Homo sapiens: one gene and its partners. The protein of the gene in region 5 interacts with the protein of the main gene of each other region in a biochemical or structural test. Each region holds a gene or a part of one and is shown on either strand. Other genes may lie near its edges. The genes, in order: ALK, STAT5B, CEACAM1, FRS2, PTPN11, STAT5A and NEDD9.

What was found.
Region 1: the proteins of PTPN11 (region 5) and ALK form a complex in vitro, tested with the Homo sapiens proteins (one study listed by BioGRID).
Region 2: the proteins of PTPN11 (region 5) and STAT5B form a complex in vitro, tested with the Homo sapiens proteins (one study listed by BioGRID).
Region 3: the proteins of PTPN11 (region 5) and CEACAM1 form a complex in vitro, tested with the Homo sapiens proteins (one study listed by BioGRID).
Region 4: the proteins of PTPN11 (region 5) and FRS2 interact in a test that uses a peptide from one of them, tested with the Homo sapiens proteins (2 studies listed by BioGRID, with this or other methods).
Region 6: the proteins of PTPN11 (region 5) and STAT5A form a complex in vitro, tested with the Homo sapiens proteins (one study listed by BioGRID).
Region 7: of the proteins of PTPN11 (region 5) and NEDD9, one has a biochemical effect on the other in vitro, tested with the Homo sapiens proteins (one study listed by BioGRID).

Annotation. Positions count from the first base shown.
Region 1 is NC_000002.12:29,225,587-29,229,086, forward strand, and holds part of ALK (ALK tyrosine kinase receptor isoform 1 precursor), read right to left. Parts: intron 3,481-3,500; coding exon 3,298-3,480; intron 2,087-3,297; coding exon 1,988-2,086; intron 1,489-1,987; coding exon 1,336-1,488; intron 1-1,335. UniProt on the Homo sapiens protein: Neuronal receptor tyrosine kinase that is essentially and transiently expressed in specific regions of the central and peripheral nervous systems and plays an important role in the genesis and differentiation of the nervous system.
Region 2 is NC_000017.11:42,273,592-42,277,594, reverse strand, and holds the start of STAT5B (signal transducer and activator of transcription 5B), read left to right. Parts: upstream 1-1,203; 5' UTR 1,204-1,347; intron 1,348-1,961; exon of another isoform or gene 1,962-4,003. UniProt on the Homo sapiens protein: Carries out a dual function: signal transduction and activation of transcription. Mediates cellular responses to the cytokine KITLG/SCF and other growth factors. Binds to the GAS element and activates PRL-induced transcription.
Region 3 is NC_000019.10:42,525,682-42,529,732, forward strand, and holds the start of CEACAM1 (cell adhesion molecule CEACAM1 isoform 1 precursor), read right to left. Parts: upstream 2,801-4,051; 5' UTR 2,694-2,800; coding exon 2,630-2,693; intron 1,720-2,629; coding exon 1,360-1,719; intron 189-1,359; exon of another isoform or gene 1-188.
Region 4 is NC_000012.12:69,567,888-69,571,387, forward strand, and holds part of FRS2 (fibroblast growth factor receptor substrate 2), read left to right. Parts: intron 1-1,117; 5' UTR 1,118-1,143; coding exon 1,144-1,209; intron 1,210-2,443; coding exon 2,444-2,630; intron 2,631-3,388; coding exon 3,389-3,500. UniProt on the Homo sapiens protein: Adapter protein that links activated FGR and NGF receptors to downstream signaling pathways.
Region 5 is NC_000012.12:112,417,707-112,421,746, reverse strand, and holds the start of PTPN11 (tyrosine-protein phosphatase non-receptor type 11), read right to left. Parts: upstream 2,801-4,040; 5' UTR 2,636-2,800; coding exon 2,622-2,635; intron 1-2,621. UniProt on the Homo sapiens protein: Acts downstream of various receptor and cytoplasmic protein tyrosine kinases to participate in the signal transduction from the cell surface to the nucleus. Positively regulates MAPK signal transduction pathway. Dephosphorylates GAB1, ARHGAP35 and EGFR.
Region 6 is NC_000017.11:42,301,998-42,305,497, reverse strand, and holds part of STAT5A (signal transducer and activator of transcription 5A), read right to left. Parts: intron 1,157-3,500; coding exon 1,069-1,156; intron 969-1,068; coding exon 846-968; intron 1-845. UniProt on the Homo sapiens protein: Carries out a dual function: signal transduction and activation of transcription. Mediates cellular responses to the cytokine KITLG/SCF and other growth factors. Mediates cellular responses to ERBB4.
Region 7 is NC_000006.12:11,187,669-11,191,168, reverse strand, and holds part of NEDD9 (enhancer of filamentation 1), read left to right. Parts: coding exon 1-1,205; intron 1,206-2,861; coding exon 2,862-2,951; intron 2,952-3,500. UniProt on the Homo sapiens protein: Scaffolding protein which plays a central coordinating role for tyrosine-kinase-based signaling related to cell adhesion. As a focal adhesion protein, plays a role in embryonic fibroblast migration.

The DNA of each region.
Region 1 (3,500 bases), on a different chromosome or scaffold from region 5:
GGTATTGACAACCACACCAGGTCTCCTTTGAGTTGGTCCCAAGTCAGAAATAACCTCCCCCACTGAGACAAAAACTACTTGCTCCTTCCCATCGCTGGAGACCTTGTCACACTTTTCTTTTCAGGGGACCATGAGCAGGACCAGACTCATCCCGATTTGACAGGCTTTTAGCAGTAGCTTTTGGGTGAAGGGAAATTTAACAGGGATGAATATCAGTGGCGGGATGTTGGTTTGAAACATGAGCTGCACAACTATGGGGTGAGGATGGAAGGTGAAACGAAAGTGGATCTGGAAGAGATGTGGGGGCCGCAGGTGACCAAACAACAGGGTGCGCTGTAAGTAACACCCTCTGAGGCTAAGTTACTTCCTTGTGGCCCTGAGGCACTGGGCTCACAGTGGGGAGGGGTCCTGTGCCCTCTGCTGGCCAGACCACACGGAGGTATCGTGCTTGGTACTGGACACTACATTTCAAAAGGGACATCGATAGTGGAACACATGCAGAAGAGGGACACTGGTGGGGCGGGGGAAGAGACACAAAACTGCATCTTGTATGAACTGCTGCAAACAAATGGGTTATTTAGTCTGAAGAAGAGTTAAAGGAGGAGGATGGGGCCAGGTGCGGTGGCTCACACCTGTAATCCCAGCACTTTGGGAGGCCGAGGCGGGTGAATCACCTGAGGTCAGGAGTTTGAGACCAGCCTGGCCAAAAGGTGAAACCCTGTCTCTACTGAAAATATGAAAATTAGCCTGGCATGGTGGTGGGCGCCTGTAGTCCCAGCTACTCAGGAGGCTGAGGCAGAAGAATTGTTTGAACCTGGGAAGCGGAGGTTGCAGTGAGCCGAGACCACACCATTGCATTCCAGCCTGGGCAACAACAGTGAAACTCCGCCTCAAAAAAAAAAAAAAAAAAAAAAAAGAGGAGGAGAATGGGAGCACTGTCTTCAAACACTGCACATGCACAGCTGCTGCTGTAAGGAAACCTAGGAGAGGAAGGTTAAGGCAACAGGTCCCCAGCTCTGAAACTGCCCAAGGGAACAGAGAACCTTAGGAGCAGTAAGATCCCTGTCACTGGGCATGTTTAAGTGGAGGCAGGATGGCCCCTTGGTGGGGGTGGTAGAGGGCTTATTCTATAGTAGAGGATTTTTAAGACTCCTTCAGGAGCCATGACCCACCTTTCACACAGTGGTCAGAGCACTCGAGCTGTGGCAGGTAGGGGAGGGACAGAAAGTTTACAAAACCGAATCCAGGGTGTTCTGGAACCCAGAAACCATTTGTGGTCATGGGCCAAATCTCAGGCTATGGGCCCCTCTGCCTCCCCTGGCCCTGCCCCCTTACCAATGCAGGAGACGCCATCCTCAGCCAGCACCGTCCCGTGGTCACAGAAGCAGATGACCTTGTGGCTTTCAGGGTCCATGTGACATTCGTCTACCTCACAGTGACTGCAGTTTAGATAATGCTTAATATTCACTTCCCCGTGGCCTTCCATCACTAGTGACAAGGAGGGAGGGTCAGTCTTGGGCCGAGCCTGCCTCCCCACTCCCAGCCTCAGTACTATGTCTCCAGGTGGTCACTGTGGGTGCTCTGGTGGTCCCTGTTCCTAGGTCCCATAGCCACTGGAAGCACAACTGTGTAGAAGAGTCTTCCTGTGCATATAGAGAGTGCAGCGGAGGCAGCGGGCATGGGTGTCTATGGATGTTTGCTTTTGAGTCAGTGGTGGAGAGAAGCCCACGCACATGATCTTTAGGTTGGCTGGTGCAGGTATTGGGCTATTACTGTTACATTTCCTAGGATTCTGCCTCTGCATTCATATTAAAGCACACATCCTGACTTCTGGAAAATGTGGTGACCTGCGCCATAGGAAGCTTGCCTGCCAGGGACCCATAATTGTGCCTCTGTATCCTGGATACAGGTCAGAGACTCTGAGGTTTTAGCTTGGTGGGAGGACTGACCTAAGCAAGTTTGTTCTGCTGCCTGGCAGAGAAGCTACCTTTTAAAGCTGGGGTGTACAGGATGCCCAGTGGACTGATGAAGGAAACCCCATCTTCCCCATCCATTTCGGGGTCATTGTTTGAGGCTGCATTGCCGCCTGAGTAGCAAACCAGAGCAGAGTTTAACATGGGGGGTGGGTGCCAAAATCTTAACACACACACACGTCAGTGGGGCATGCAGCTCTGGCCAAAGTTAGGGGGTCACTGGGGACCTCAGGGGCAGGGATGCGGGGAGGGAAGGGAGGCTCAGGGCACAGAGGCTGCATGTGGGATTTGGCTCAGTAGATGCTGGGTGTGTGGCTAATTTCCCCTCAGGTCCAGGCCAGCTCCCACTCTGCCGGTGGCCCACTAAGAAGTGGTTAATGTGAGCAAGAGTCCAAAAAGTTCTAGTCTTTCCAGGCTGGGATATGCCCATGGTGCCTCTCCCAGGACTGGTCAGGATGGTAGCACTGAAGAGTTGCTCTTCAGCCCCATTGGGTCAGGGTTGGGGTGTGGCGGGCTGTGCGGATTGCGGGAAATGAGCCCCTGTGCCCTGAGGCTCCCGTCCCTCCTTTCATCTGGGGCTGGGCTATCTTTGGGCTCCCCCCTCGGGCTCCTCCCACCCACCCAGCTTGGAAAAGAAGAGCATGTGGTTAACACAAGCATCTTACACACAGCGTCAATGCAAAACACAGACACGAACACCACAGAGCATGCATGCATTCGTCCTAATCTGTGGGGAGCGGGGAGCCATCGTCTCCCAGCCTCTCAGCTTCAGAAGGCTCTGCTGACTGTGCTCTGAAGCCCAGACGAGGCAGCTGGGGTCAATGGGCAGCTGCTTGCTGAAGGGCTGGGCTAAGCCTGCCTGCAGTTGCCCTCGGGAATAGCTCCCATCAGCAGGCACAGCGGCGCCTTTCAGGAAGCTGGTGGGCTGAGGTAGGGAGCAGGAGTAAGGAGTCCATGAAACCACAAACCAGCCCCTTCAGGAGCTGGCTTGGCCAGGCCATCCAAGGGAGGCTGGGGGAGTCCTTATGGGTGACTCAGAGACTAGTCTGGCAAGCCAAAGCCTCTTTATCATCGACTTTGGGGGACATCAAGAATCACATGGGATCTTGATGCTGTCGCTGAGGAAGCCTGGAGGCAGGGTGCTGGCTCGAAAGCCAGCACCCTGCCTCTGGCTGGTCCAGGCAGGTCGAGAGGGAGGCGTGCAGTCACATCACAGTCCACACTTGGGCAGGCCAGGGGAGGGCAGGGGAGGGCAGGGCAGGGAGGTGAGGAGCCTAGGACTAAGCAGGGAGGGAGTGACACCTTGAACACGAATCATCTTTACCTATATATCCTCCGCCTCCTCCACCTGAGGAGCACCCCCCTCCACCCCCTCCGAAACCCCCTCTTGTCTCCCACCCCCACTTCTTCATGGCCTGGGGGCAGGAATGTCCTCCGGTGGCACCCTCCTGCAAAGATTTTCCGGCCCAGAGCAAGGAAGTGTTATCATTCCAGCCACCTCCACCACCTGCGGGAAGAGATAGGGAA
Region 2 (4,003 bases), on a different chromosome or scaffold from region 5:
CCTACTCTGTGCAAAGCACTGTGCCAGGTGTTGGCCCAGAGTATGGGACTGCAGCAGTGGCCTGGGTAGCGGAGAAGGGTTTTTTGACCAGCTGGAGACCTTTGTGGCTGGTGTCATTCTGGAGGTGAAGAGAAGGCCGCTGGAAAGAGCTGCCCAGGGAGGACTATGGGAGAACTTGCAGCTCTGGGCCATCTCTGGACATGAACGTTTTGCATACACACAGGGGAGCTCTGTGTGTCTGAGTGGGGGCGGGAGGGGTCCTTCTCTCTCTTTTGGCCCCTGCAGCTTGGCTTCTGGAGCTTTCCTATGTCTTGCTTTAGTGCTAGCCCTTGGAGGGTTGCCAGGGAAACCGCTGGCCAGCTCCGGGAGATAGACGTAGCAGAGGAAAGGAGAGTGGGTGACTCAGCCTGGCTTCCCACAACCGCAACCCCCTCCTCAGCACGTGGAAAGGATCTGGGGGACCCCCTTCCCCTGGATCCTACAGATGACCCTGTTTATTCTTTCTTCTCTAGAGAGAGCAGTCCCTCCCGCAGCTCTGACTGGTGGGAGCCAGCCAGATTTTCCCAGGAAGGGAACCGGCCCCAGGCGCCCCGTCCCCCGTAGGTTCACCCTGGAACTCGGACAGGTGAATTCGGCCTGGGCGAATGTGAATTCCTGCCGTGCCCATGCAGGCGGCAGGAGCCCTGGCTGAGACGCCCTCCCGGGGGCAAACCCAGGATAATTATTGATCGGGGCCCCTGTGGACTTCTGACCTCGGCCTCGGCGGGAGAGGACCCGGAACGCGGGCCTGGGCTCCCAGGGAGAGAGGTGGGCGGGCCGCGGAGGGGGCCAACCAAAACGACCACGACAGTGCGCCCTAGCCCTGCTAGTGGTGGTCGACCCAACCCAAACAAAGCAGCATGTGCTTGCGGTGCGGCGTCGGCTAGGGAGCCGAGCCGGGAAGACACCCCACCGCCGCAGAAAGGGGGTGCGCGCGGCGCCGGCACCGGCACCGCCGAGCGCGCCGCCACCTCGGGTGTGCCGAGGGGGTCCGGGTCCTTCAAGGGCGGTCGCGGAGGGGGCGCGAGGGACAGCGGGCTAGCGAGCGCGCGCCGGGCGGAACCAGGAAGCGGGGCGCGCTCCGGGTTGCCAGCGGCGCGCGTCCCTGGGCCTCCGCGCGTGAGCGGCGCGCGCGCCCCCGCGGGCCCCGGCGGGAGGAGAGTCGGCGGCCGGAGCCGTCACCCCGGGCGGGGACCCAGCGCAGGCAACTCCGCGCGGCGGCCCGGCCGAGGGAGGGAGCGAGCGGGCGGGCGGGCAAGCCAGACAGCTGGGCCGGAGCAGCCGCGGGCGCCCGAGGGGCCGAGCGAGGTAGGAGCTGCGGGGCGAGCCCTGGGCCCGGGGCCGGGGGAGCCAGGCCGGGGAGCCAGCCCGGGCGGGGCCCGCGCTCCAGCCGCTCAGCCGCCCGTCAGGGCCGCGCCGCCGCCATCACTCCCGGGCCGCGGTGGTTGCGCGCTGGGCGAGGGGCGCGCGCGGGGAGAGGGGGTCCGGGTTGGCTGCCGGGGAGGCTGAGGGCAATGCGGGGTGCGCGAGGGGGACTTGCGAACGCCGCGGCGCCGCGGGGGGCGTGCGCTTTAAAGGCTGCGTGCGCGTGTGCTGAGTGGGTGTGTGGGGACCCCGCGCCGACCCCATAGGAGCTCAGGGGGCTGCTGTCAGCCGCCTCACACCTTCACGTTGCAATTCCGAATATCCCCAGCCGTCTTCCTTGCTTTAACTTCTTTCTTTCAAAAGAGGTTCCCGGGACTCCGGGGATGGGATGAGCCTGCGGGGGTGCCTGGTGCGGTGGGGGGTATTAGCAAAGCTTCAAGAAACAGGGCCTTATAAGGAATCAAGACAACAAATACGAACGTTTCGATAAGACTCTGGGGGGCGGGATCCCACATCAGGACCCGCCAGGCCTGGGCTCGTGCGTGTGGCCGTGGGATGCAGTGTGCTTTTTCTTTCTAGTCAGGGATAAAGGGTTAAAAGTGCTCCTGGTGTCGGGGGGTAGATATGGAGAGTCGGAAGGGGAGTTGTATCACAAAAGCTGGTCTGAGGCTAAAGGAATCTGGCAAGATGGTCGGGGTGAACAAAGAGGAAAGAACTCACACGGAGCAAGAGGCGGTTGCAAACACTTGTAGCCAGCAGTGATGGAAAAGCCAAAGAAGAAAACCAAGTGTCAGCTTTTAGAAAGACGGGATTAATGAAAAGCACAAGAATTTTAAAGACTAAAAGAGATACCGATTCTCTCTTTGCCAAAGAGCCAGAGTCAGTTCTTTTCTTCTTGGTCCCTGTGATCCCGCCATACCTCGTATCAAATAAATAGTGCCAAAAGTGGGTCAAAGAATGTTAGAGCTGGAAAGGAACCCAGCGATGATGCCATTCTTTTATTGTACAAATGAGGAAACTGAGGCCCAGATAGGTGGAGTAAGTGGCCTGCTCAGGTGACACGGCTGTTTGTTGAGTATCCAGGGATTGAAACTTCAAGGACTCTGAGATTCGTGCTCTTCCCAAAGCATCGTGCAGTATACAGATCTTTGCCTAGATACAATTCCATACATTTTCTCTGCAGTGTCCTCAGGGAATGCCCTTTGAAAGGGCCAGCGTGACACTGAATATCATACTTGGGCTTATGTCATTTTTTTCAGTCTTCAAGTGGTGTTTATGGTCTGCTTGGATCTTAGGTTTCCAAAGCTGTTGGATAGCCGCCTGGGCCATAATAAGCTTTCAGCTGTTGGGTCTACATTATTTCAAATAATTTTGTTATCTTTCAATTAAGGTAATAGAACTGTGCCTCTCTCCCCAACATTCTATTGTTGTCCATTTGCTTATGTTATATTGCGTTATGTTCATTGCCTGTGAGTTCCTAGGTGAGGATGTATTTTATTGAGTGTGCCTTTCATGTTTTAAAATTTCATTTTGTAACACTGTAAATATTGGAGTGGTTCTGATCACTTCAAATGGGGAGAATCTTATTGATTGATTTTATTTTAAGGCTTTGGGTTGTTTTGTTTATTCATTTGGGTACCAGTTTCCATCTCATGGAAGATCACAGTTGTTAGAATGGACATGGCTAAATAAGAGAAGGGGCTGCTGATTTTAAGAAAAACTTCCTATGTGACAATTTGTGGTATCTGTTACGTTTAATTCAAACAAGTCCACACCTTGGGTCAGGTAAGCGCGTTATCTAGGAGATGACTTGTTTGCTACTGTAGCCTCTGGAAGATGAAATTTCAAGCTCCAGATTGAGACACAGGGAAGGAATGGAGAGGTTTTTTTTTTTTTTTTTTTTTTTTTTGTAAAGCAAACCATCAGAAAAAAAAAGTTGATTTCTATCACCAGTAGTTTGGTTATTGCATAACTTGAAGCTAAACTCTGCACAAAATAATCTTTGCTATATACCCAACTAGGTAAACTATCCCACCTTCTCATCAGTTCTCACCTTTTCGGTGCTTGTATTTTTTGCCCACGGGATATTAATATGGATTGTGTTCAGAAATTTAAGGTGTGTACTTCATAGTATGTATGATTGTAGGAGAAAAATGTGCTATCATCGTTTGGAGTGTTACAACATAAATATTTTGGTCAACACTTCCTATCCTGCTCTGACTTTTCATCTCATCTCCATTTTCTTCCTCTCTTGATTGTTTTTATGTCATTTACATATGTAAAAGCCACATCAAGACTAAAGTTGCCATTTATTACTTTTTGATACTTAAGTCGAGTTTTTTCAAATCATAGTATTGTTAGTATTCAAATTGTCTGTAATTTTTGTTAGGCTTATATATTATGAATCCATTTGTTGTGGTTTATTTGGCTTGTTGTTATGTAGGTAGGTGACACAGGTAGTCTTATTGTAAAAGGAAGACGTTATAGATAGGTAAATAACATGCTCAAGATTAGATGCAGGTTACAGGTGGAATCGAAGGAAGCCTAACTATTTTCGTGCCCTACAAAAATGTCTGTATCTCATAAAGTTATTCACAGA
Region 3 (4,051 bases), on a different chromosome or scaffold from region 5:
GGGGTCCACAGATGCCAAATAAGGCCCCTGGAGTAGAGGAGAGGTTAAGACTGTGGCTGAAGACAAATCTCCTGTAACTGATCTTCCAGTTACGGTCTGTGTGACCTTGATATAGTGACTGTATTTATTGCCATGTGGCTCAGTTTCCCCTCAGTGAAATAGTATAAATGGTTAATGGTTTTGGCTTATCTTGTGGTCTGTGAATTAACCTTAAAATATTTATAATTATTTGACCTCAGCTCTGCATAGGGGAGCTGCCCAAATAAACAATCTTATTTTATTTTATTTTTTTGAGATGGAGTCTCGCTCTGTCACCCAGGCTAGGGTGCAGTGGTGTGATCTTGGCTCACTGCAACCTCTGCCTCCCAGGTTCAAGCAATTCTCCTGCCTCAGCCTCCTGAGTAGCTGGGATTACAGGCACGCACCACCATGCCCGGCTAATTTTTTTGTATTTTTAGTAGAGACGGCATTTCACCATGTTGGTCAGGCTGGTCTTGAACTCCTGACCTCATAGTCCATCCACCTCGGCCTCCCAAAGTACTGGGATTACAGGCGTGAGCCACCGCTCCCGGCCGCAGCATCTATTGTTGTTGGATTCCCTGAGAGTGCCTCTCAGCCTGATCCCTGGTGGACAAGGAGCTTTCAGGAGCATCCTGTCTCCTCTGTTCCTCCTCCTGGGGATGGTAAACTTCCTATGGCATCTCCTAAGCCCCCAGGGCAGTTGGCTGATGGCCTGGGGAGCTTGTCCATCTGTCCTCTCCAGGCTGAGACTAAGGTGAAGGATGAGGCTCCATCCTTGCCCAAATGAGGCTCTAGTGCCTGAACCCTGGCTGGTTACCAGCTCCAGGAGCCACAGCCCTCGGATAGCTCAAATTCTTGTTCCTAGTCAGCCCTGCCCAGGAGGCCACAATCTAGCCCTGGCCCAGGCTCCTCAGGGTCACCAGGAGTTGAGAACCTTGGGATAGTGTTTTGGAGCAGGGGATTCCCAGGGCTGAGCTTGTCTGTGAGGATCCCAGAAGGCCCTTCAGGCCAGACCCTGACTGAGTCCTACTGGGTCTTTCTTAGGGACATGTTCACCAGGAGGGTCCCGGGGGGCTAGATTGAGACTGGTCTCCCCTCGATAAGTTACCCACATCAGATTGTCCTTCCTCTGAAGCAAATGTCTGCAGGATCAGGACTCCAGAGTAAGACATTCGGTATTTTGATGTCTGTCCCATAGTGTGTCCTGCACTAGATGCTCAAACCTTAACATGGGGTATAATGCAGAGGAGGACACAGGCACAGCCCAGGCCTGACAATCCCATGTGTGGGAAGTAGAACTAACCCCCCAACACCCAGAGGTCATGGGGAAATACTCACGGTATACATGGAACTGTCCAGTTGCTTCTTCATTCACAAGATCTGACTTTATGACTTGTAGGGTGTAGAATCCTGTGTCATTCTGGGTGACGTTCTGGATCAGCAGGGATGCATTGGGGTATATTGTCTCTCGACCGCTGTTTGCGGGCCCTGGGGTAGCTTGTTGAGTTCCTATTGCATATCCTACAATTTGACGGTTGCCATCCACTCTTTCCCCTTTGTACCAGCTGTAGCCAAAAAGTTGCTGGGGCAGATTGTGGACAAGGAGAAGAACCTCCTTCCCCTCTGCAACATTGAATGGCATGGATTCAGTAGTGAGCTGGGCAGTGGTGGGCGGGTTCCAGAAGGTTAGAAGTGAGGCTAGGAGAGAGGAGAGAGCATCAGTCAATATTGGGACCTATGCATTAGGGTAGAAAAATGGGGCCTTGGGTCCTGAGCAGGTGTCTTCACCCCTCCACCTTGGAGTGTGTGTGTGTGTGTGTGTGTGTGTGTGTGTGTGTGTGTGTGTCCTACTGGGTCAAGGTCAGCAGTGTGACTCCCATTCCCTTAGTGCCTCTGACCTTGTCATTTCTCTGGAATGCCCTTCCCCAGGGATCCGCATGGCTCCCTCCCCACTGCCCTCAGATCTTGATCACATCAGGGTGCTCTTGGGAGATCCTTTCCCTGACACCTCCCCTAGAGACCCTGGGTATTCCCTTTCTGACCTTTTTCTGCTCTGTTCCCTCCAGGGCTCTTGTCAACACCTGACCTCACATTCTAGATCTCTTTGCTTGTCTGTCTTCCCCACCCATGAGAGCGTGAGCTCCGTGAGGGCAGGGATTTGTGTGATGTTGGTTGCACCCCAGTGCCTGGGATAGGCTGCAGACTCCTGTGGATGAGTTAGTGAGCATTCCCAGGGCTCTTCATGTCCTGGGGTTTATTTGCCAATATCTGAGGTTGGTGGCTCAGGGCTCTGTTTAATGCCCCTTTTAAAATGTTTTCCTTAATTGTCACGCTGACTTAAATTGTGATTATTGTCAGCAGTTTTTGAAATTTATTGCTCATTGATGATTCAGTTGGAAAAGGTAAAAAATGGGAGATTGTTTATTCACTAACAGTTTCAGATCACTGAGACTTTCCTTTTATGATCTCTATCCCTTTCATGTCCTCTCTCCTATTTGGCTCCAAGAGAAGCCCTCTGTCCCCTCTTAGAGCTCCATCCTCCCCAGAGGACCCTAGCCATTCTCTGTGCGCCCTCTTTCCGCCCCTTCCCAGGGTGTCCTCCCCTCACCTGTGAGCAGAAGCCCCTGCCAGGGTACACGCACTCTGTGAAGTGGGGCTGAGAGGTGCCCCATGGTGTCTCCTGCTGGCCCTGTCTTCACCTGTGGAGGAGAGCTTGGGCTCCAGGAACGCTTCGAGCACGGCTGCTCTGTCACCTCTGCTGTTTTCCACTCTCTGTGCTGAGCCTCCTCCCTGGGGCCCAGAGCTTTGTCTGATCATGTGTGCTGGGGCGGGGTTTGTCCAGGAAGCTCTGTTTCCTCTCCTCTCATTCCTACCTTTGTCCTTACTTTCTCTTTCCTTTCTGTCTACATTTTGGTTTCCCAGACCACACTTTGAGAATCAAGGCTGATGAGACCTCTGTCCCCATCAGGGGAGGAGGATCCCCCCTCTCCAGCACTGACCTCTATTGTGTCCTGGCTATGGGTCTGTCAGCAGCACACAGAGAACCCTGGCATATCCAAATGTGGTAATTATTTTCTTTGCAACACAGTGAGCTGCCAGGTCTCCCCATGCTCTTCAGTGTGCTGGGAAGGTAGGAAGACACCCAGCAGGAAGGTGACAGAGGTGGCTCTGGGGGATGGAAAGGGGCTCACTGGGGGATGACTGGGGAGGGACCAGCCCTCTGTCTCTAGTGTCACCAGCCTGGCCTCTAACCCAGGGACAGAGACCCAAGTCCAGGGGTCTCAGGTGGAGCTGCAGCTCCCGGATATGGAGGGGGAGGTGTCCTGTGTGTCCTGGGAAGAGAGGACTGTGATAGAGGGAGGTGGGTGGCTCTGGGCTCTACTGTCCTTGGGGAAGACTTCAGGGGGACCCTCCCTCCCTTGAGCTGAGGCTCAAGGCCTGTCCATGTTCTCCCTGACCATCCTGGGTGGTCTCTGTCCTCTGCGAGGCTGATTGTCCTGTGGTCACCGCACCTTCCCCACAGGTGGTGCCAGGAGGGAATGGGGAGCTGCACAGGGACCCCTCACAGAACAGGGTCCTCAGAGGACCCAGGAAGGGACAGAGCAGGTACATGGGAGGGCCTGGAAGGGTGTTTTGGAGCAAGGGATGGAAAGTGGGCTCTACCTTCACCTCCTTAGCAAAGCCAGGTTCATGACCAGGGGAATGTTTCCTGAGTGTTGTCTGTGTGCAATGTCTCCCCCTGGAGGGCAAGACAAGGCCTGCAGCCTTGTCAAGGGCTGCCCCAGGGATGCTGACCAGGGTCTACATGATGTGAGCTGGCCCTGACCCCTGGGCAGATGTGGGCTCTGACCTCCAGGCTTCAAGGTCAAGTCACCCCAGGTCCTGTTCACTGCGGGTCCCCAGGCTGCCCAGCTCCATGCGGTGCAGGATGAGCCCAGGGAGAGGACGTGAGTTGTCCAGAGGACTTCTGTCAAGATTGGAGAGAACTGTCCACCAGGGGGATGGGCTGCCTTAGAAGGAGCCATCTGTC
Region 4 (3,500 bases), about 43 Mb from region 5:
CTGATCGGATCTATCATACTGAAGAGTTTATACTGTTAAACTGAAGATAGTGGAGAGCCACTGAATAATTTTCAACAAGCTTCAATCAAATTTATGTTTGTAATGTTTTGTAGCTTCTGTGCTTCCTTCCCTCCTCCTTTTTCATATATTGTCATATTCTATCTGATTATTTCCCTTGTTTGTAAGTGATGCTTTGGAGTTTTCTTTGTCTGCTCAGTTGGAGTGTTCTTAAACACTCAATGTCAGGTATATAACCACTTACCTCTAACCTTCTATGGGAAAGGAGTATTAAATAGACATGCTATATCAGTTTTGCCAGTATTCTGTGTGTTACTTTACTGCTTAATTTTGAGTTGTCTTTCTCTCTTACCAATGCGCTATTCGAAATTTGATTTTGTTTTAATTACCAATGAACTCTTGTCTTGTGGAGACATAAAAGATACTACAATGAGTAACAACAGTCAAAATACCTGCCAAGCCAGAAGTTCACCATCCCTTTGGTGATTTTTTATTTAAAGAACAAGCCAGGTCTGGTAGTCCTGTAGTCCCAGCTACTCAGGAGGCTGAGGCAGGAGGATCACTTGAGCCCAGGAGTTTGAGCCCAGCCTTGGGCAACATAATGTCTGCCTGCCTGCCTGCCTGCCTGCCTGTCTCTGTGTCTCTGGCTGTCTCTCTCTCTCTCTCTCTGTCTCTCTCTCTCTGTCCCTCTCTGTCTCTCTCTCTCTCTTTAAAGAAGGACATGAAATTCCTGATAAGCCACAAAGGGTTAATTTCATTATTAACTCTTGAACAAAAATTAATTATTTAGGTAATATTATATATGAGACCTTAAGTTGGTTTTTTTTTTAGATGATTTTAGAATAGGTGACCTTTGCAAATTTAACTAGAAATTTGAGATTTGTTTGACATTATTAATGCCTCACAAAATTTATTCTCATTATTACTGAGTAAAATCAACTAGCTAGTTGTATAAAATCTAGCTGCAGCCATATACCTTGTTGGACTTAATTTTCTGCATCAGAATAATGTTTGTGTTAGATGATTTCTAAAGTCTTTTTCTGTTTACAGTTTTTGTATCCTTCATCTAATAAATTTTTCCAAATTATTTTTCATGTAGTGCACACATGGTCTTCTGAAGAAGCCATGGGTAGCTGTTGTAGCTGTCCAGATAAAGACACTGTCCCAGATAACCATCGGAACAAGTTTAAGGTCAGTAAAACTGGTTGAGTTATATATCTTACTGCCTAGTTGGGTGTTCTTCTTTTATTTCACTTAACATATCTTATTTCTGGCTTTTATCACCAAACCTTTCTATTTCCCTTTCTTTCCACCCTGTCTTTCTTGATTTAATAAATGATGACAACATTTTCTTACAGTATGGAATTTTTTTTAGTTTTCCTTCGGTCCTCTGTATCTAATTAGCCATACCGTTCTGGTAATACTGTTTTTAAAATGCCATTTTACGGGGTGCCTTTTCAATCTCATCACTATCTGTCTTTCAGTTATTATTTTCATGTGTGCCTGTGTGATTTCTTAACTGGACTCTACCTCAAGTCACCCTCTGATTCATCCTGTAGTCACCATCAAATTAATCTTCTTCTCTCATCATTCACTAACCTCTTTGCTAAAATTGTGTGGTGTTATTTTACCTGTAGGCTAAATGCTGCTATAGCTGTTTTGTGTCTGATAATTTGACCTCGATCTGTTACAAAGAATAGCCTTGATCACACAAACCTAGGTGTAAGTCTGTCACTTTATAAGCTTTGTGACCTTGGGCAGGTTACGTTATTACTGAGTCTTAATTCCATTTTTGTACAGTGTAGTCTAGGATTGTTATGAGGGTTAAATACATGTAAAGCTCTTTTCCTACTCCCAGGGGAATAGTAACTTCTCCCTAAATGTTACCTACTGCTCTTAGTCTTTGGATGTTTTCTGAAGCTCAGCAGTACAAAGCCTTTCCTCATATGAACTCTGTGCCAATCTATTTTGGTGTCTTTGAAAGGTACTTTTTTTGTTCTGCTTTAACATTGTGTCTTTATGATGTCCCTTTATCTCCTGACCCACTAGATTTCCCCTCTGATTTTATTTTCTGCGTAAATTTATTTATACTAGCGGTCCAGCTAAAGGCCCTCCTCCTCTTAAATGAAGGTGTCTCAACAACCTTAGACCACACTTCCTGCCTTCTGCAGCCTCTGTTGCATTCCTTTGTCAATTAATCATACACTTTTGTGGTATTGACTTTGTGTTTCTACATTTTGTTTCCCCAGTGGGAATGTAAATTTCTTACAGATCTGAACTGGGTGTTACACGGCTACGTAGTCCATGCCTGATACACACATTGGTTGATGAATGAACTAACAAATTACAAATAACTAATTAGCAACAATGCATTTTCCTGACGAATTGGTGACATATTTGCATGACTGTCACCTTCTTTTTTTAGGTCATTAATGTGGATGATGATGGGAATGAGTTAGGTTCTGGCATAATGGAACTTACAGACACAGAACTGATTTTATACACCCGCAAACGTGACTCAGTAAAATGGCACTACCTCTGCCTGCGACGCTATGGCTATGACTCGAATCTCTTTTCTTTTGAAAGTGGTCGAAGGTGTCAAACTGGACAAGGTAGAACCTTTGTTTTTTTTCCCAAATATTGTATTTGAAATTGTTTTTTCAGCTATTCTGTATACAAAGATTAAATTAATATTTTTCTTCTGAAAAAAATCCCAAAATAAACAGATTGTTAAGGAAAGATATAGTATACTGTGTATTAATTTATCAACTGTTTATTAAGCACATTGTCTATGTGAGAAATTTTGGCTCATGTCAACTTTAAGATTTTTCAGTAAATGATTGGGTCAGCTAAATTGACTAAGTGTCTTTATCATTGATTTTTTTACTACCTACTACTTGAATGGCCTTGACAAGTTACAGGACTTCCATTGAATGTTAAATTTCTTCTCTATAAAAGGGAAATGGTAATACCTATCTTTTAATTATTGTAATAATTAAACAAGATAACAATTGGAAAACACCTAGGGACTTTCCAAGGGGCCTGTTACATGGCAAATGATCACCTTGGAATAGTGAGTTGGGCTCCCCCTGCTGTTAAGAAACAGACTAGCGTAAGTGCGCAGGTCTTGATTTCATTAGCTTTATTTTGGGCCATCTCCCTTAGATGAATGAAAATTATTCTGTGAACTTTTGGCGGGGGTTTGTTTTGAAACAGAGAATAATCATTAATTTATCAGATATTTATTTAAAAGGGATTTCTGACTCGGTGCGTAGAATGCTTACTTTACAATTCTGCTGTTTGTCAAGTGTTCCTATAGTTTTTTTTAAAGGTATGTTAACTATTTTTCCCTTTTGGTTTATATTTGTAGGAATCTTTGCCTTTAAGTGTGCCCGTGCAGAAGAATTATTTAACATGTTGCAAGAGATTATGCAAAATAATAGTATAAATGTGGTGGAAGAGCCAGTTGTAGAAAGAAATAA
Region 5 (4,040 bases):
CTGAGGAGGGGGGATGGATTGAGCCTAGGAAAACAAGGCTGCAGTGATTGCACCACTGCACTCCAGCCTGGGCAACAAAGTGAGACCCTATCTCAAAAAAACACAATAATAACAATAATAATAAAATTCTAGGGCTGGGCAGGGTGTCTCATGCCTATAATCCCAACACTTCAGGAGGCCAAGGTGAGAGGATCACTTGAACCCAGGAGTTTGAGACTGCCCTGGGCAACACAGTGAGACCCCATCTCTATTCAAACAATTTTAAAATTTTTAAAAATAAAATTCTAGGAAATGCAAACTAATACATAGTGACAGAAAGCAGAATAGTGGCTGCCTAAGAACAAAGGAAGGATTATAAAGAACATAAGGCAAAATTACCAGGGGTGATAGATGTGTTCATTATCTTGACTATGGTGGTGGTTTCCCAAGTGTATATGTATGTCAAAACTGATCAAATTGTACATTTAAATATATGCAATTAATTGCATGTCATTTATACCTCATTAAGGCTGGTTAACAAATAAAACAGGCTTATAATCCAAAAAATAATGAATCATTCAAAATTATGTGTATTATGTTCATAACCCGGCTTTTTGGGTGGTGCATAATACCAGGGCTGGAGGGGAGAAGGAATTACTCCATTTCAAACTGTCATCTTTACCACTTGCTACTTTGACTATGCCCACACTTCTATGCTTCTAAATGAACAAACTGGACAATGTAGGGTCTATTACTACCCAGACCTTTTCCCAACCCCCAGCCCCGTCTGATGTCTCCTAAAGCAGCAGATCCTTACTTGTCTGGAAGAGCAGACACCAGGAACAAAAGGCTCAATGACTATTTGACAGATTAAAGAATAGACAACTGTTTATTTAAAAGCTCCCTAAAGAATTAGAACATTTGAGGCTATACACTGTTCTGTTGAAATGCAGTTATATATTACCCAGATCTGTAAGCACTTGCCAACCGACCTGTCCAAGTCACTCACTTCCTACGAGTTCTCAGTTTTCTTTTTCTCCCCTTTTTAAATTCCAGATCCATGTATGAATAACATGCCAGGTGTGTTTGGAGGAGACATTCCTAATATTTTGAAAAATCTCATTCAGGCTGGGTACGGTGGCTCACGCCTGTAATTCCAGCACTTTGGGAGGCCAAGGCGGGCGGATCACGAGGTCAGGAGTTTGAGACCAGCCTGGCCAACATAGTGAAACCCTGTCTCTACTAAAAATACAAAAATTAGCCGGGCATAGTGGTGCGCCTGTAGTCCTAGTTACTTGGGAGGCTGAGGCAGGAGAATCGCTTGAACCTAGGAGGCGGAGATTGTGGTGAGCCGAGATTGCGCCACTGCACTCCAGCCTGGGCAACAGAGTGAGCCTCCGTCTCCAAAAAAAAAAAGAAAAAAAGAAAAGAAAATCTCATTCAAATAGCCTCAATAGCTTGAATCGTTTTTTAAATGTCTGAGACAGTGACCATAATTGAACAATCATGGAAAAGAATAGACAATGGGTCTTAAGTGTGAGTGGTATATAGAGTGACTATACAAAATAGCAGGATCACTATCTGAAAACAACAGGTCACACTACTGTTTGACAACAAAATTAAGGCTTACAAATGGTTAGCAATAGTTACAAAATAATAGAAGCAACATAGTGATTAAAAGTAGGGATTCTGTCTCCACCACCTACTAGCTGTGAGGTTAGGCAATTTACTTAACCTCTGAAACTCGGTTTACTCATCTTTACAATGGGGATAATAGTAGCCATCTGATAGGGCTGTGGTCAGAACTAAGCAAATGTTAGCTATTAGTAGTAGTATTACCCTGACCTTTCAAAGGATCTCATTAACTCACTAATCCTCCTAAGTTTCAAATCTTGTCATTTACTAGCATGTTGCTTCTGGGCCTCGGTTTCCTCATCCATAAAACGGGTACCAGTAAAGTGACCTGACTGTTAAGGTTGCAGTGAAGGATTAAATAACGAGATGCGGCTCCCTTCCTTTCCATCTCCCAAAGCGAAGATCGCAGAGGAAGGAAATACTTCTAGTGGCTGCAGATACAGTCAGTTTTTCCATTTCTGGCACGTGAGGGGTAGGAGGAAAAGAAGACACAAAGAGGCATATAAAAGGGTCAGGGGTCCTGCGTGAAGTCCCCAAATGCACGAAAGTGGCACAGTGAGCCAGAACGACTAGACCACTGGGGGCCCGGCCCCGCGCAACTCCCCTCTCGTGTCCCAAGGAGCCTCCCCAAGTGAGCAGGGTTATTTCGGAATCACCATGAGGCAATTCTCATGAGGCAATGGGTCAGGAATGCGGCGCTGAGCCTGGCCGCTGGCACCCGTGGTTCCCTCGGCGGCTCTACCTGCCCCGGGCCTGACGGGCATCCCCGGGGCTGCCGCAGCCGGAACTCGGGGAGGCAGGAAATGAATGGGGACCCGAGGGGTGGGGGCGCGGTGGGGCCGGCCCCCGGCCCCTGGAGGGCGAGGGGACGAGGAGGGAACCGGCCCCCAACCCCGACCCGGGGCGGGAGCCCGAAGCCCGGCCGGGGCGCCCCCTTCCGGACGGGGCTAACCGAACGCGGCGGTGGCCGGGCCGAGGCCCGCGCCGGGCCCCTCGGGGCTCCTCACCTCCGCGATGTCATGTTCCTCCCGCCCTCCGGCTCCGCGACGGACCCGCTCCTTGCTCAGGCTCCGCTGGGCTCGGTCACATCGGGCTGGCCCGAGGGAGGCCCGCTCGGGACCGGACGCGGGGCAGAGCCAGCCGGCCGCGCACAGACCCCCCTCCAGGCCTGGGGATCCCGGAGACTGTGCAGCTGCCCCCCGGCCCGGCTCGCTCCTCCTCCGCCCCCGCCCTTCGCCGCCGTCGCCCCCGTGATGTCACCGCTCGCGACGCCCGCCGCCACTTCCTGCTTCCCGTCAGCGGAGGACCGAGCGACGGCCGGGAATGGCAGCGCGGGGGCTCCGCGGAGGCGCCACGCACAGTGTCCAAAGCATCCTTGCTTCCTCCTGGAAACCGCGGCCGCCAGGTGTGAGCTGCGCGCTCCGCGTCTACGCCACCGACCCGTCCGGGCCCGCTGCCACATCGATTTCATTCATTTCGTTCCACAAATCGCCGCTCCACTCATTAGCTGTGGAACCTTGGGGAAATTACCTACTGTCTCCGAGCCTCGGTTTCCTCCATTCTTTTCTTTCTGTAAGATAAAGATAGTAGGCTGGGCGCGGTGGTTCACGCCCGTAATCCCAACACTTTGGGAGGCTGCGGCAAGAGGTTCGCTTAAGCCAAGGAGTTCGAGGCCAGCCTGGGCAAAAAAGCAAGACCTCATCTCTACAAAAAATGCAAAAAACTAACCGGGCGTGGAGGCTGCGGCGGGAAGATAACTTAAGCCCGAGAAGTCGGGGCTGCAGTGAGTCGTGATCACGCCACTGCACTACACCCTGAGCGACAGGGCAAGACACTGCCTAAAAAAATAATAATAGGCTGGGCGCGGTGGCTCACGCCTGTAATCCCAGCACTTTGGGAGGCCGAGGTGGGCGGATCACGAGGTCAAGAGATCGAGACCATCCTGGCCAACATGGTGAAACCCCGTCTCCACTAAAAATTCAAGAATTAGCCTGGCGTGGTGGGGGGCGCCTGTAGTCCCAGCTGCTTGGGAGTCTGAAGCAGGAGAATCGCTTGAACCCGGGAGGCAGAGGTTGCATTGAGCCGAGATCGCGCCACTGCACTCCAGCCTGGCAATAGAGCGAGACTCCGTCTCAAAATAATAATAATAATTACAATAAATACTACTTTGGGGTGGGAGCGGTGGCACACGCCTGAAATCCCAGCACTTCCCTTTGGGAGGCTGAGGCGGGCGAATCGCTTGAGTCCAGGAGTTGGGAACCAGCCCGGGCAAAATAGTGAAATCCCATCTCTACAAAAAATACAAAAATTAGCCGGGCGTGGTGGCGCGCGCCTGTAGTCCCAGCTACTCGGGAGGCTGAGGTGAGAGGATTGCTTGAGCCTGGAAGGTCGAGGCTGCTGAAAGCCGAGATCGCGCCACTGCACTC
Region 6 (3,500 bases), on a different chromosome or scaffold from region 5:
GGAGTTTCACTCTTGTTGCCCAGGCTGGAGTGCAATGGTGCAATCTCGGCTCACCACAACCTCTGCCTCCCGGGTTCAAGCGATTCTCCTGCCTCAGCTTCCCAAGTAGCTGGGATTACAGGCATGTGTCACCACACCTGGCTAATTTTGTATTTTTAGTAGAGACGGGGTTTCTCCATGTTGGTCAGGTTGATCTCGAACCCCTGACCTCAGGTGATCCACCCTCCTTGGCCTCCCAAAGTGCTGGGATTACAGGCAAGACCCACCACCCATGGCCGCAATCTGCTTTATTTTCTTCGAGACAGGGTCTCGCTCGGTCGCCCAGACTGGAGGGCAGTGGTGCAATCACAGCTCACTGCAGCCTTGACCTCCTGGGCTCAAGTGATCCTCCTGCCTCAGCCTCCAGAATAGCTGGGACTACAGGTGCAGGCCACCATGCCCAACTTTTTTCTTTTTTTTGTAGATACGGGTTCTCACTATGCTGCCCAGGCTAGTCTTGAACTCCTGGACTCAAGCAGTCCTCCCTCTTCTGCCTCCCAAAATGCTGGAATTACAGGTGAGAGCCACCACACCTGGTCCCAACCCACTTTCCTCACCCACAGTTCCAAACACAAGCCCCTCCCAGCAAAATGTAGGCACAAGCAAACAAACAAAAACTACAACCGACTTCTTCTTAGCCCATTGCCTAAATTGTCTGGGTTAGTCCCAGATTATAACCTATCAAACAGGGACCCACAGAGTCAAAGCAGGCTGTCCGATGGCATTGCTGCCAGGAGTCCTGAGGCAGGCCCCTCCACCTCTTGGGTGACCTGGAGCAGTGGGGGCAGGAGGGCTGGGGGTCTCACCTTCACCTGGAACACAAGCTCATTGCTGCCAACACTGAACTGAGACTCAAACAGGACTGTGAACTTCTCCTCTGTCACGGACTCTGCACCCCGCCGGTCAGCACGCTTGATCCTCTTCAGTGACTGCAGGGTGGGAGGTGACAGGGGAACAGGGAGATGGCGGCTGCTTACAAGGACTCAGCTCTGGGCAGACCTGCCCTCCGAGGGTGGGCCCCGTCCTCACCATGTTCCTGAAGTGGGCACTGAGGGTGCCCGTGGCTTGGTGGTACTCCATCACGCAGCAGTTGTTCAGGATCTCACCACTGCACTCGCTGCAAAGGAGAGGGGGGTCCCAGCTCCACATGGGCCCCAGGCCAGGAGCATGGTCCTGTCCACACCTCGGGCTGGGGTCTTCGCTCAGGTCAGCCCTGCCAGCAGCCCCTGCCCCGTATCCCCTAAGAGTGTTTCTTGGCGTCTTTCTGGGTTACTGACTTCTCCATCAACCTGGTGCCCAGCACCCAAGGCAAGGTCTCCAGTGGTGAGGTCTGGATCTATCATTAGAAATTCCTCGATACCAAGATTGATGTGAGGGCTTTGGGGACTTCCAATAGCTTCTAATGCACTTAAGATAAAAATCACAACCACAGTCTCTGAGGATCCCTATGGTCAACACCTACCCACCCCCCTGGCCTCACTGAATTCCTCTCCCCTCACTCAGGACATGCAAGCCCCGTTGGCCCTGGCTGTCTGCTGAACATGCCAGGCTTGGACATTGGCCCTTGCTCTTCCTGTCACCCCAAACACTCTTAGCCTTCTCCTCCTTCAGGTCTCAGCCCAGATAGCTCCCCAGAAAGGCCTTCCTGGACCACTTATCTGGAGAAGCTTACCAAGCTGACCTTTCCTCACCCCCGCCTTAAACACATCTCCAACGCTAGCAGATTGCTCTTTTTTCTTTTTTTTTTTGAGACAGAGCTTTGCTCTTTTTGCCCAGGCTGGAGTGCGATGGTGCAATCTCAGCTCACCACAACCTCCACCTCCCAGGTTCAAGTGATTCCACTGCCTTAGCCTCCCAAGTAGCTGGGACTACAGGCGCACACAACCATACCTGGCTAATTTTTGTATTTTTAGTAGAGATTGGATTTTGCCATGTTACTCAGGCTGGTTTCGAACTCCTGATCTCAAACGATCCTTCCACCTCAGCCTCTCAAAGTGCTGGGATTACAGGCGTGAGCCACTGTGCCCAGCCTAGATTGCTCTGTCTTAACTTCTTTTCCAGTGTCTATCACTGGTTGGCCCTGCCTGATCTTTTAAAGTGTATTATCATCAGTCTCCCCAGCTGCAATGCAAGCTCAAAGGCAGTGAGAAGGTCATTTGTCTTCATCTTCACCCCAGATCACATGGTAGGAAATCAGTAAACTTTTTTTTTTGAAACAGAGTCTTGCTTTTGTTGCCCAGGCTGGAGTGCAATGGCACAGTCTCGGCTCACTGCAACCTCCACCTCCTGGGTTTGAGGAATTCTCCTGCCTCAGCCTCCTGAGTAGCTGGGATTACAGGCTTCCACCACCATGCCCAGCTAATTTTTGTATTTTTAGTAGAGACGGGGTTTCACCATGTTGGCCAGGCTGGTCTCGAACTCCTGACCTCATGATCCGCCCGCTTGGGCCTCCCAAAGTGCTGGAATTACAGGCGTGAGCCACTGTGCCTGGCCTTTTTTTTTTTTTTAAACAGAGTCTTGCTCTGTCATAGGCTGGAGTGCAGTGGCACAATCTTGGCTCACTGCCACGTCCACCTCCGGGTTCAAGTGATTTTCTTGCCTCAGAGTAGTTGGTAGTTAGGACTAGAGGTCCAAGTAGCTGGAGCTACAGGTGTACGTTACCAAGCCTGGCTAATTTTTGTATTTTTAGTAGAGACAGGGTTTCACCATGGTGGCCAGGCTGGTCTCGAACTCCTGGCCTCAAGTGATCTGCCTGCCTCTACCTCCCAAAGTGCTGGGATTACAGGCGTGAGCCACCTCGCCCAGCCTCAGTAAACATTTTTAATTGGATGACAAGGGATGGGGCCATGTCTTCCACATCACTCATTCACTCATTTATTCATCCCCTGCATACGCTGTGGGTGGCCTGCCCTGACACTGGACACTACTTCTCCACTCTCTGCTACACATAATGTCTCTGTACTCTTCCCTCAGGATGTGGCACATGGGCTCTGCCTGAAAGTCCTCCCTCTCTGCTACTTCCCTCCCTATCACTAGCTACCTCCAATTCCACCAGGAGCCTAAGACTGTCATTTCTTTAATCCTGCAAGAAGACCCCCTTTCTCGGTGCCCTACACATCCCCCTGCCACATGGCTACACCATCAGGCATTTCCCAGCATCTGCTGCCTGCTCTGCTGCTCAAGGGGCTGGGCGAGAAGACAGCCCAGTTCTGTTGGGATCACAGTTTTGTCCTCAGTGCGTAGCACAGGTTCTAGAACACAGCTACAACACCATACTTTGTGTGATTTTTTTGGAGACAGGGTCTCACCCTGTTGCCCAGGGTAGAGTGCCATGGCACAATCATACCTCACTGTAGTATCAAATTCCTAGGCTCAAATGATCCTACCACCTCAGCTTCCCGAGTAGCTGGGACTACAAGTGCGTGCACCACCATGCCCAGCTAATTTTAAAACTTTTTGTA
Region 7 (3,500 bases), on a different chromosome or scaffold from region 5:
CAGGGCTTAGGGAAAAAGACTATGACTTCCCCCCTCCCATGAGACAAGCTGGAAGGCCGGACCTCAGACCGGAGGGGGTTTATGACATTCCTCCAACCTGCACCAAGCCAGCAGGGAAGGACCTTCATGTAAAATACAACTGTGACATTCCAGGAGCTGCAGAACCGGTGGCTCGAAGGCACCAGAGCCTGTCCCCGAATCACCCACCCCCGCAACTCGGACAGTCAGTGGGCTCTCAGAACGACGCATATGATGTCCCCCGAGGCGTTCAGTTTCTTGAGCCACCAGCAGAAACCAGTGAGAAAGCAAACCCCCAGGAAAGGGATGGTGTTTATGATGTCCCTCTGCATAACCCGCCAGATGCTAAAGGCTCTCGGGACTTGGTGGATGGGATCAACCGATTGTCTTTCTCCAGTACAGGCAGCACCCGGAGTAACATGTCCACGTCTTCCACCTCCTCCAAGGAGTCCTCACTGTCAGCCTCCCCAGCTCAGGACAAAAGGCTCTTCCTGGATCCAGACACAGCTATTGAGAGACTTCAGCGGCTCCAGCAGGCCCTTGAGATGGGTGTCTCCAGCCTAATGGCACTGGTCACTACCGACTGGCGGTGTTACGGATATATGGAAAGACACATCAATGAAATACGCACAGCAGTGGACAAGGTGGAGCTGTTCCTGAAGGAGTACCTCCACTTTGTCAAGGGAGCTGTTGCAAATGCTGCCTGCCTCCCGGAACTCATCCTCCACAACAAGATGAAGCGGGAGCTGCAACGAGTTGAAGACTCCCACCAGATCCTGAGTCAAACCAGCCATGACTTAAATGAGTGCAGCTGGTCCCTGAATATCTTGGCCATCAACAAGCCCCAGAACAAGTGTGACGATCTGGACCGGTTTGTGATGGTGGCAAAGACGGTGCCCGATGACGCCAAGCAGCTCACCACAACCATCAACACCAACGCAGAGGCCCTCTTCAGACCCGGCCCTGGCAGCTTGCATCTGAAGAATGGGCCGGAGAGCATCATGAACTCAACGGAGTACCCACACGGTGGCTCCCAGGGACAGCTGCTGCATCCTGGTGACCACAAGGCCCAGGCCCACAACAAGGCACTGCCCCCAGGCCTGAGCAAGGAGCAGGCCCCTGACTGTAGCAGCAGTGATGGTTCTGAGAGGAGCTGGATGGATGACTACGATTACGTCCACCTACAGGTAAAACAGCGGAACTCATAAAACACCTACACTCACTCACATGCAGGGAGCCTGAGAAAGATGCCTATAAGGATGTCGGGTTGGACTGCCAAAGGAGAGAACATAATTAATGTTAATCTACATGGTTCACAAATTGGAGGGAGTGTCGTAGAGTAGTAAGAACGCTGGGCTGAGAGTCCTGAGTACTCACTCAGATCTAGCCCTTTCTCTGACGTTTACTGTGTGACCAACTTATTCAACCTCCTTGGGCCTTAATTTCCTCATTTGCAAAATGAATGGGGTAAGGGGTTGGATTAGATCCCGTTGATATACCTCAGGTAAGAGGAGACTCACCAAGTAGGATAATAGGCCCTCTAATAATAATACCAGCTCCACTTCTATTTGTGTTTTATGTATAGTTCCATGCAATATTTTATTTGAAAAAAAAGTTTTCGTCATTAAGAAAAAGAATAGAAGACCTTTGCACCAGAGAATTTCTAAGGCCCCTGCTAGCCCTACTCTGTGTATGTGTGTGTATAATTGCTTTAAAACTTAGCCCCATCTCAGACTTACCTAGAGGACCACTGGGCATTAGCTAGCTGTCCTAGGAGCTTAATCTGTGTATGGGACATTGGATAGTCACAGTTGGCCTCCTACAATTGGGAATTCTACCAAGCTCCAAGTTGACCTGGGATTCCGACAGCTTTCCCTTCCACTTTGAGGGATTAAAACATTCTACTGGCTGGGCGCAGTGGCTCACGCCTGTAATCCCAGCACTTTGGGAGGCTGAAGCAGGTGGATCACAAGGTCAGGAGTTCAAGACCAGCCTGGCCAATATGGTGAAACCCCATCTCTACTAAAAGTACGAAAATTAGCCAGGCATGGTGATGCACGCCTGTAGTCCCAGCTACTTGGGAGGCCGAGGCAGAAGAATCACTTGAACCTGGGAGGCGGAGGTTGCAGTGAGCTAAGATCGTGCCACTGGACTCCAGCCTGGGCGACAGAGCGAGACTCTGTCTCAGAAAAAAAAAAAAAAATCTACCAAGATCCATTGTTTAGGACTAGGCTTACTATCTTATTCTGCCATTCTTTTAATTTGACTGAGAGTCACAGATTATACTGAGAACTACGTAACTATTATGCCAAATTCCCTCAAGCGCAAGAAAGTGTGGCAAGGAGAACTGAGCCCCACCTGATGCTGAGGAAGGAAGTGGAGAGAGAGAGGATGGAGGCATTGAACATTCATCTTACTGGTTGTCTGACCCTGCACAGTGGGAACTACTGCCTTGGAGCAGAAATCTATAGATGATTTGAGGGAACTAGAAGTGAGAGGTGGACCACATTTAGACCTGCATTTGGGGGTTTACAGGTTCACATATAATCTATGAGAAAAGAACCCAGAGACTATAAAAAGAACATTATATATGAGATTTGAAGGGAATCATGAGTAGCTCTCCGAAAATTTTAAGGTGCCCCAGAAAGCTGGCACCCTATATGGCAATGGGCTTTATTTTTCTGCCACCCCTGTCGTCTAGGGTTCACAGTGCCTCACTGGGCATTTGAGATGTTGCCAAGGCAGTGGAAAATAAAGAGTATTTACTCATCCGTCAATGAAATTGTTAGCATAAGTGAATCACAGTGATGACATAATATGTTCTTTATGTTGAAAATTAACAGGGTAAGGAGGAGTTTGAGAGGCAACAGAAAGAGCTATTGGAAAAAGAGAATATCATGAAACAGAACAAGATGCAGCTGGAACATCATCAGGTAAGTTCAATCAGAGCAAAAACTGCTTGGCATTGGAAAGATTTCCCACCTAGCACTAAGGAAAGGTATCACTTCAAGAGATTATGATTTTGATTCTTCCAGCTCACTGGCAGGAATCAGCTCCAAAGCACGGAATGGGGTTTAAAAGCAAAGAGAAGGTTTATGACCTTGTTAGTTCAACTGGGTGTACCTGGGTTCCATCTAAACGGCAATTTTTTTAAAGGCTAAACCTGCATATCTAACATATGAGGACTATTTGGGTTAAGGCATTTGGTCTCAAGAAACAAGACCCATTCAAGCTAGCCTAAGCAAGCAGGTTTATAGTAAAGCCACAGTAGGGGAATTCAGTAACAGAAAGTGAAGATAGAGCCAGGTCTGGGGAGAACTAGAACTGTAAATTATCTCTCCTTCTTGTAGTTCCTTTGCTTCTTTCTATCAGTCTACTTCACTCTCACCTATTTTCTGGTTTTCTCTAATTATCTACTCATTTGGCTCCCCTGTAACTTTGCAGAACCCATAAATGGCCACTCAGAACTTCTATAGATGGCT